Linked DNA regions of Homo sapiens: regions 2 and 3 are each reported to be linked to region 1. Evidence: microRNA targets listed by miRTarBase, many of them from high-throughput screens and not tested one by one. Region 1 holds a microRNA gene; each other region holds the end of a gene's coding sequence.

Region 1 (3,226 bases):
GCAAAAGAGACAAATCCATCAGTGGAACAGACTGGGGAGCCCAGAAATAGACCACACAAATATACAAAAGAACAAGGCAATATGATGGAGAAAAGATAGTCTTTTCAAGAAATGGTGCTGGAACAACTGAATAACTACATTTTTAAAAAACGAATCCATATATAGATGTTATGTCCTTTACAAAAATGAATTCAGAATGTATCACAAACATAAACATAAAGCACAAAGCTATCAAGCTTCGACAAGATAATCCAGATGACCTTGGATTTTGCAATGATTTTACAGATAGATATAACATTAAAAGCATAATACTAGAAAAAAAGAATTGATAAGCTGGAGTTCCTTAAAATTAAAAACTTGTGCTTTGTAAAAGACACTGTTAAGAGAATGAAAAGACAAAACATAGAATGGTAGAACATATTTGCAAATACATATTTGATAAAGAACTGTTATCCAAAATATGCAAAGAACTCTTAAAACTCAATAATAAGACAAAAACCCCAATTAAAAATAGTCAAAAGATCTGAAGAGACATCTCACCAAAGGAGATACACAGATGGCAAACAAACATGAAAAGATGTTCAACATCACATATCTTTAGGTAGTTGCAAACTAAAACAACAATGAGAGAACACTTCAGACCTACCAGAATGGCAAAAGTCCAAAATTCCTACAATGCTCAATGCTGGTCAGGAGGTGGAACAACAGAAACTCTCATTCATTGTTGGTGGGAATACAAAATAGTACAACTACTTTGGAAAACAGTGTGGCAGTTTTTTTTACAAAGCTAAACATAATCTTACCATATGATCCAGTAATTGTGCTCCTTGGTATTTATACACCTGAAAAAAACTTATCTTCACACAAAAACCTGTTCATGGATGTTTATAGTCGCTTTATTCATAATCGCCAAAACATGGAAGCAACTGAGATGTTCTTCAATAGGTGCATGGACAAATGAAATGTGGTAGAACCAGACAATAAAATTTTATTCTACACTAAAAAAAAAATGAGCTACATATACATGACAAGATACAGAGAAACCTAAATGCATATTAATACATGAAAGAAGCCAATCTGAAAAGCTATATACTGCATGAAAAGCTATATACTGTATGATTTCAACTACATTACATTCTGGTAAAAGCAAAACTATGTACACAGTGAAAAGATCAGTTGCTAAGGGTTAAAGGAGAGGGAGGGATGAATAAGTAAAACACAGAGGATTTTTTAAGGCAGTGAAATTATTCTGTATAATACTATAACGGTTGACAAATGTCATTACACATTTGTCAAAACCCATATTATGTACAACACCAAGAGTGAACCCTCACGTAAACTATGGACTTTGGGTGATAATAATGTGTCAATGTAGGTTCATCAGTTGTAACAAATGTACCACTCTATTATAAGACATTGACGGTAGGGGAGGCTGTGAATGTGTGGAGGTAGAGGGTATATGGGAAATCTCTGCATTTTCTGCTCCATTTTTGCTGTGAACCTAAAACTGTTCTAAAACATAAAGTCTATTTTTTGTAAAAGTTTTCTAAGGTCAACATAGTTAATACTGAAAAACAGCATTTTAAAAATCAGTTATAAAATAACTTGTAAGAGTTAAGGACATTCTTCCTAATTGTCCAATAACGTTGAAACACTTCAACCATGAATATATTTAAAATAAAAATGATAAATCGCTTTGGCGACACCCAGTAGAATAAGCTTGACTGGCTAAATAAAGTGACCATCTTTTCATCTTCATTTTCAAATGCCTCTGCATCATGACATTATTGGTAGGGATTGGAGCAAGAAAGAGAGAAGGAGGAAAAGAAACTAGTGTGATAAAAAAAGAAATGCTACAGAAATGGGGTTTATAGATGAAATAAAAGAAAAAAAAGGTCATAGGGAAGATGTGTTAACGAAAGAGAAAGAGTGAATTCCAAGAAAGTTGGCACTATTAATGAACATGCCGTCGACATTTTCCCAATTAATAAATGGTTCCACTAACCTCTTCTAGTGAAAGTATGTTTCTCTAAAAAAATAAGAGTCATGAGAAAAAAATAAACTAGTCATAGTAACTGAGAAAATACTATGCAATTTTTTTGTATAGAAATGGTGGTTTAATGAACAATGTTCCAAAACACTTTTCAAAAATTATATATATAATTAGATGTTCTGTAGTTGTCAGGCACTGAGGACACCTAAAAAAAAAAGGGAAGGAAAGGGAAGGAAAATGCACCATATTTATTCAGTGTCAGTGAATATGACACTTCAAAGATGTAATACTGTTATCTGAAATACTGTTATCTTCGCAGCCTATTTCAGGTAACAGTATTGCTTCTTTGAGGTGTCATACTGAAGACCAATCAAATACCAAAACAACGAGGTGAACAGTGAGCTATTCGGGTAGAGCTGAACATAGAATGGCTGGAATGCCTACACATGAATTCAGTGCTTTTGACTTTGTGTGTGCGTACATGGTAGCAAAAGTAGCAGAAAACTACAAGTTAGGGGTTCAAGTAAATCTGAAAAACATTTGGATAGTGTAACTTAATTCTTGTGGGGGTTACCAGCTTTTTGATAAAAGGTCACCAATAGTCATCATCCAGCCCAATTCCACAACCTATTTTTAATCCTGCCCATTGTCATTCTTCTGGAGAACTGGCACCTATAATTATCCTCACCTGTAGAAACCCTCTCATCTTGAGATTTTTGGCATTACCACTCTTTTCCTACTTTTGCCGAATTCTTGTTAATCCTCTTACTCCTTCAGATTTCCTATGATGTAAAATATGTAACTGTGGGTGTGCCTCAAGACTTGGGGGAAAGAACACTAAATATACAGAAGACATTTTCTAATCCTTTTCTGTCACTACACTCATTTCTTCACATAATTTCAGCTATCATTTTTATGGTAACTAATATAAAGCAACATCTGAAGGATGAGACCTCTCAATCAAGGAATCTAATCCAGAACTTTATTCCACAAGATATCTTTAAATTAAAATTTTACTGTATCTTGACAGTGTATTTAAAATAAAACTCTTTATTGTAATTTTGCTTCACTTTCCATCTTCCATTTTTACTTCTCTTTTCCTGGATATTTTTGTAAAGGTTTTATTTCTCCTTTTCCTCTCTTAAGCTTTGAATAATGACAATCCAATTTATCCTCAAACCCTTCCCTTAATGCTTATGTACAGTAACTTAAATGTGATCCTGCTAGATGATT
Region 2 (3,000 bases), not on the chromosome of region 1:
AACGTGTTTGGATTTCTTCAATCTGAACTGGTGAGTTGGGGAACCCTCCTCCTCCCTCCTCCCAGGCTTTCATTCTTGTCCCTTCCCTGGCATTGTCCTCACAGGGCTTATACTTCTGAAAATAAACACCAGGAGATGTGTTCAGGCAAATATTGCTTTCTTCTGCCCCGTGACCCTCACTCTCCAGCCAAGGGGACACCCAGAATGACTTCCTGGAACTGGGAAAGAAAAATTATCTGGGGGTGAAATACACATGGTGCCTCAGGAAGAAGTCCTCCTGCCCTGTGGGGTCTGTGCGGAGGCTGCAGGGCTGGCGCTTCCCATGAAGGCCACAAAGGCCCACTGTGTGCATCTCGGCCTCACTCGGCCTCAGTGAGGTCACACTGTGAGCCTGAGAATTTGAGCGGCATTCTCTGCCCCCAGAGCCAGCTGTCAAACATTTACCAGCACAGCACCAGGCAGGATCCACGGCTAATGGCAGCAGGGGTGGGAAGAGCTGAGCTGAAGTTCAGAGCTAGGATAAAGCCAACAGGAATCCCTCTCCTTTGTCAAGTTTATTTTATTAAAATATACAGGACTGAATATTAGTGGATGCTGAGAACAGGAACCACCCTCCCAGGCCGTGGCCAAGGGAGACGCTTCTGCCATGCAGACATGCGGCCGGTCTGTGTCCCAGCGTGGGAGGCAGACCCCTCCTGGTTGGGCTGTGCAGCCAGTCTGGCCCCAAGGCCAAGGCCGGCAGGGGTGTGGTGGTGATGCTCTCCTGAGGCCTTGGCCTTAGAGGCAGAGTGACACCAGCTGGGAGGGCTGGGCAGCGGGTGAGGGGAGGGAGAAGATCCCTGAGCCAGGGAAAGCTGATGCCCTCCTGGAGGCAGAGGCCCCCAGTCAGCCTGGAGCCTGGAGCCAGGCGTCCATGCAGCTCCGCAGGGGAGGCCAGGCTGTGTGTGAATGCCGAGGGGCCCCCATGGCCTCCGCCATACTGCCTTTCCTCTGAGGGCCCTGCTCACCCTGGGGCTAGCCTCTTGGGGCACACGGGGACTCCCCGGGCCAGCCCTGAGTGGAGCTGGGCTGGCTGTGATGGAATGTATTATGTGGGAATGTTCCTGGAGGGGCCATGCGGCCTGGGACCGGGTTCCTTCTGGGTGAGGCCCCAATCAGGCGGGAGCAGCATCTCTCTCCTCCTGGGGGTTTCTGCTGACCACCCAGCCACAGCCCTCTCAGCCCTCACCATTGGCTCCAGCTTTGGGCTGGCATTCTCCATCCCCAGATGGAGGGGACAGCCAAGCAGAGTCCCCAGGGTTTGTGCTTTTGAATGTTGGTCAGCCGGGCTGGGCTTTGGGGCCCCACTGATCCCAGGCACAGAGCAGACCCCCAAGGCCTCTTCCCCAGGGCCACCATATTGGGGCTACTGGGCCCAAGCCTCAGCCAGCAGGAGGGCCTGGCCTCCGAGAAGCAGTGTGCTGGGCTCCCACTAGGGCTGCGCCTGAGCTGCTAAGGAATGCTTGTGCTTTTTGTGCAAGGCAGAGGGACGGCGACACTGCTTCAGGAGAGGGGGCTCAGCCAAGCTGCTGGGCCATGGGAGGGGCACTACAGGAAGAGGAGGGACACGCCCCTTCCCAGACTCCTCTGAGCTCTGCCCCGGGCTCCCTGGCTGCCAGTCTCTGAACCACGTTCCTCCCGGGACCTAAGAGGACCTTGGAGGGAACAGTCTGTGCTGGAGGGTGTGTACAGCCCCACCCACTGCATTCCCACTGAACCAGGACTGGGGCAAGGAGAGGCTCATCCCACCCTGTGGAGCTGGCAGAGAGTGCCCTCAGATTCTCCACCACGACCCAATCCCTAAACTTGAAATCCCCCGCCTTCCTGCCATGGAGGGAGAATGGGGCCCAGTGGCCCCTCACCACTCAGGCTTGCCCCACAGTGGGTGGCCTGGTACCCAGCTCTTCCAGGTCAGTGGAGTAGCAGGGGATCCTGGGACCCCCAGGGAAGAATTTCCAGAAAGCTGCAGGCTTGGCCTCCATTACCCCCTCTCCCCCCTGCCCCCCAGCTGGTCCCTCTGGGGTCCTGAGGTGAGGGGCTTTCTAGAAGCATAGGTAGTGGGCAGAGAGTGGCTACGGGGAGGAGACCAGGGGAGCCTGGGGCCGGCCCACTGTGTGGCAAGAAAGCAGAATGGAGAACGGGACGAGGTGGGCTCACACCGGAGATTGGACCCTCCCCTGCAGGGGCACTCGAGCCCCTTCTTGGTGACATCCAGCAGCTGGTGGCCTGCAGACCTGCTCTGTCAGCCACTCACCCAGAGGCAGCCTCGCCTCGCTGGCCTGGGAAGGGCTGGCTGGGGCTCCTGGACTCGGCCCCTAGCCAGACTCAGCCCCTCCCTGAACTCTGTCCCCTCTGCCAGCCCAGATGAATGGCTGTGTGTGTGTGTGTGTGTGTGTGTGTGTGTGTGTGTAGCAATCTGTTCACTTTTTGCAAATCTATTTTTTAAAAGTTTCTTGGAGGCTGCTCCTGGCAGGATGGAGGTTTCTTGGGGGTGGAGGTGGCTGTGGCCATGCACTCCTTTGGACGTGTCCTAGATGACATTCTCAAACAGCTGCATGGAGCTCATGATGTTCTCATCCTGCATGGAGAGAGGAAGGGAGGCCTTCAGGTGCTGGGTGGGCTCCAAATCCGACCCCCTTGAGCAGATTCCCGCCAGGGACTCGGAGCCTGCAGCGACTGCCTGTCTGTCTGTCTTATTGGGTGCAGGGAGCTGGGGGACAGGGAGGTGAAGTAGCTGGTCCGAGGTCCCCAGCTGGTGAGGCACAGCCTGTCTTCAACCCCACTCCTGACTGCAAGCCCATCTGGGATGAGCTGATGAAGGCGATCCCGGCTGGCCTCCAGAGGAGGTGGGCGCTAACCAGGACTGCTCTGGGAGTGGGGCAATAGAGGCGCTGGAGGCCCAGCATCCTGCCCCCTGAGGTGCTCTCTGGAAGGGCCAGCAGCAACACTGCGGAAGCTCTG
Region 3 (3,000 bases), not on the chromosome of region 1:
TATTTCATTACCCATTATAGGTTGTCTCCGGATACTTTCATCCAAGAGTTGAATAGTTGTAACACAGATTGTGTGGCCCAAAAGCTATAAAGTATTTACTCTCTGGCTTCCTGGCCTAATCTGTTGTTGAAACCTTGAGTTTTAGAAGAAGTCTTCATGTTTAAATTCTTTTTCTTGTTTTTGGGCAGGCAGAGAACATTTATAATGATGAAGACCCTGAAGGAAGCGTGGATCCAGAAGGACAAGGGTCCTAGATATGTCTTTACTTGTTGTGATTTTAGACTCCCCTTTTTTCTTCTCAACCCTGAGAGTGATTTAACACTGGTTTTGAGACAGACTTTATTCAGCTATCCCTCTATATAATAGGTACCACCGATAATGCTATTAGCCCAAACCGTGGGTGTTTTCTAAATATTAATAGGGGGGCTTGATTCAACAAAGCCACAGACTTAACGTTGAAATTTTCTTCAGGAATTTTCTAGTAACCCAGGTCTAAAGTAGCTACAGAAAGGGGAATATTATGTGTGATTATTTTTCTTCTTATGCTATATCCCCAAGTTTTTCAGACTCATTTAAGTAAAGGCTAGAGTGAGTAAGGAATAGAGCCAAATGAGGTAGGTGTCTGAGCCATGAAGTATAAATACTGAAAGATGTCACTTTTATTCAGGAAATAGGGGGAGATTCAAGTCATATAGATTCCTACTCGAAAATCTTGACACCTGACTTTCCAGGATGCACATTTTCATACGTAGACCAGTTTCCTCTTGGTTTCTTCAGTTAAGTCAAAACAACACGTTCCTCTTTCCCCATATATTCATATATTTTTGCTCGTTAGTGTATTTCTTGAGCTGTTTTCATGTTGTTTATTTCCTGTCTGTGAAATGGTGTTTTTTTTTTTGTTGTTGGTTTTTTTTTTTTTTTTTTTAACTTGGGACCACCAAGTTGTAAAGATGTATGTTTTTACCTGACAGTTATACCACAGGTAGACTGTCAAGTTGAGAAGAGTGAATCAATAACTTGTATTTGTTTTAAAAATTAAATTAATCCTTGATAAGAGTTGCTTTTTTTTTTTAGGAGTTAGTCCTTGACCACTAGTTTGATGCCATCTCCATTTTGGGTGACCTGTTTCACCAGCAGGCCTGTTACTCTCCATGACTAACTGTGTAAGTGCTTAAAATGGAATAAATTGCTTTTCTACATAACCCCATGCTGATGGGTTTTATTTAGTATAAAACATCCATCAAACACCAGTCTCTGGCTTCTAGAAGAGTCCTTCAGATGACAGTTGTTGTCCATGGTCTTTGACTATCAAGAGCAGAATTAAATGTAATAGTCCCAGAGCTGTAGAAAAGAACTTTACTCCTTCCCAGGGAAAGTGAAAGACATAAAACACTGAATCAGAGGTGGCACAGATTAGTCTTTGATAAGGTAACGTTTCTTTGAAGTCTATCTGTAGAGAACTACATGGACTTCCAAGAGTGTCAAAGGCAGTGTGGTAGAGAGAATTTAAGGCAAGATTTAAATTTGGAAAAGGTGCTTGAACCTTTTCTCAGAGGTTTTATTTCCCCAGTATGTTTTTCACTGGGGCCTTTACTTAGGTTAGAAATAATAGGCTTTGAAGGCCTCTATCACCAGATGCAATAACCAGATAAAATTCCTGTTTTTTCCCAATCGCTTAGTTTTTTGTTGTTGTTGTTTTTTAACTGAGTAGATCATTCTGACCCAGAACTACTTTCATGAGGTAAGATCTTTGGGAAAATCTGAATAGCGTTAACCATTAGATTCAAATCTCAAATGGTTTCTTTTCAAGTCTAGTTGTTTTAGAGTATAGTGAGAAATACCTTGACACAATTTTAAGAGTAAACTATATGGGTCAGCATATCCTTGAACAAAAAGTAGACTTTGTAAAAGTATTCATTTAAATTCTAACACTCGTGGCACAAAAGAATGGAAATTGTAAACCCATGTAATGGAAATTGGCTATCTTTTTGACCCCACATGTGCCCCTCAAAAATGTTTTTGGTTTGGGTCAACACAAGGCAAGATACATTCTTTAAAATACTCCCAGATGTGTCCATACATTCATCCTTCACTCAGTGCATATGTGAGGGTTGTTGCTGGAAGACAGGAGGCTCATCTTTCCTTTCCTTGGTGCATTGAGATCAGTATCAACAGCAGATGAAATAGAATCCAGCAAAGAGTTGACATGTTCTGCCTCCGGCCAACTCTAGAATCTTTTTAAGCAGGTCAGCCAGTATTTGCAACTTCCACAGGATGAATTGCTTGCCAAGTTTCTGGCACTCTTGTCTGGTTGGAAGAGTACATCCAAAGGGTACTTAGTGATCCTTTGCTAAGAAGTTTTTTGCTGTTTCCGGGTTACAGATTTGGCCATATATTTCTAAACAGCCCCTGTAAAGTTGAAAGAAAAAGTTTATAACAGTGAACTTCTGAGGTTTAGTTACTGCAGGCTTTGTTGAGAAGAGATTGTTACAGTGTGATTTATGGATGATCAGGGATGACTTTCCCCTAGCAAATATTTGGATGCCTCCTGTTTGTCAAATAGAATGAATGGTGATGGTGATGGGAGGGATAGTTAAACGTTTTCTCTGCTAGGTTAACTTCTTACAGGTATAATTACAATGCCTGAAATTCTGTAGTTTCATTTCTTTGGATTAGTCGTTGTCTTTTCCAGATTGTACACAATCTGATCAACACAAAGGTAGTTAGTAGATCATTAACCTCAATTGCAAGGTTATAATTTCTCAAACATTAAGCATATTATCAGTCATGTGGATTCAAACACAGTATAAGAAAATCCTCAAGGCTGGGTGTGATGGCTTATGCCTGTAATCCCAGCTACTTAGCAGGCTGAGGCAGGAGTATTGTTTGAACCCAGGAGGCAGAGTTGCAGTGAGCCAAGATCGTGCCACTACTCCAGCCTGGGCAAAATAGCAAGACCCGACCCCCCATCTCTACTAAAAAGAAATTTAAAAAAATAAA

What was found. Region 1 holds the annotated microRNA hsa-miR-3942-5p (AAGCAAUACUGUUACCUGAAAU, at 2,316-2,337, opposite strand). A microRNA usually pairs through its seed, bases 2 to 8, with sites in the 3' UTR of a target mRNA and lowers its output. Matches are read on the target gene's strand: a 7mer-m8 pairs with bases 2 to 8, a 7mer-A1 pairs with bases 2 to 7 and ends in A, and an 8mer does both.
Region 2: miRTarBase lists KCNIP3 as a target of hsa-miR-3942-5p. Seed matches in the 3' UTR shown: 7mer-A1 at 2,449-2,455.
Region 3: the mRNA of RBBP4 is a reported target of hsa-miR-3942-5p. The part of its 3' UTR that is shown has no 7-base or 8-base seed match.

The regions. Positions count from the first base shown.
Region 1 is chr15:35,370,006-35,373,231 of GRCh38, forward strand. It overlaps MIR3942 (microRNA 3942), which reads right to left and starts at 2,359; the gene lies at 2,251-2,359. It overlaps DPH6 (diphthamine biosynthesis 6), which reads right to left. Exons shown (of 9, transcript NM_080650.4): 9 at 875-2,198. The coding sequence ends at 2,145.
Region 2 is chr2:95,383,619-95,386,618 of GRCh38, reverse strand. KCNIP3 (potassium voltage-gated channel interacting protein 3) reads right to left here. Exons shown (of 9, transcript NM_013434.5): 9 at 542-2,617. The coding sequence ends at 2,570. Among named protein-coding and RNA genes, the nearest start is that of FAHD2A, 18 kb to the left of the region's middle. RefSeq lists a silencer at 624-918 and an enhancer at 352-1,252.
Region 3 is chr1:32,679,452-32,682,451 of GRCh38, forward strand. RBBP4 (RB binding protein 4, chromatin remodeling factor) reads left to right here. Exons shown (of 12, transcript NM_005610.3): 12 at 189-3,000. The coding sequence ends at 254. SYNC (syncoilin, intermediate filament protein) reads right to left here. Exons shown (of 5, transcript NM_030786.3): 5 at 455-2,409. The coding sequence ends at 2,399. Among named protein-coding and RNA genes, the nearest start is that of SYNC, 22 kb to the right of the region's middle.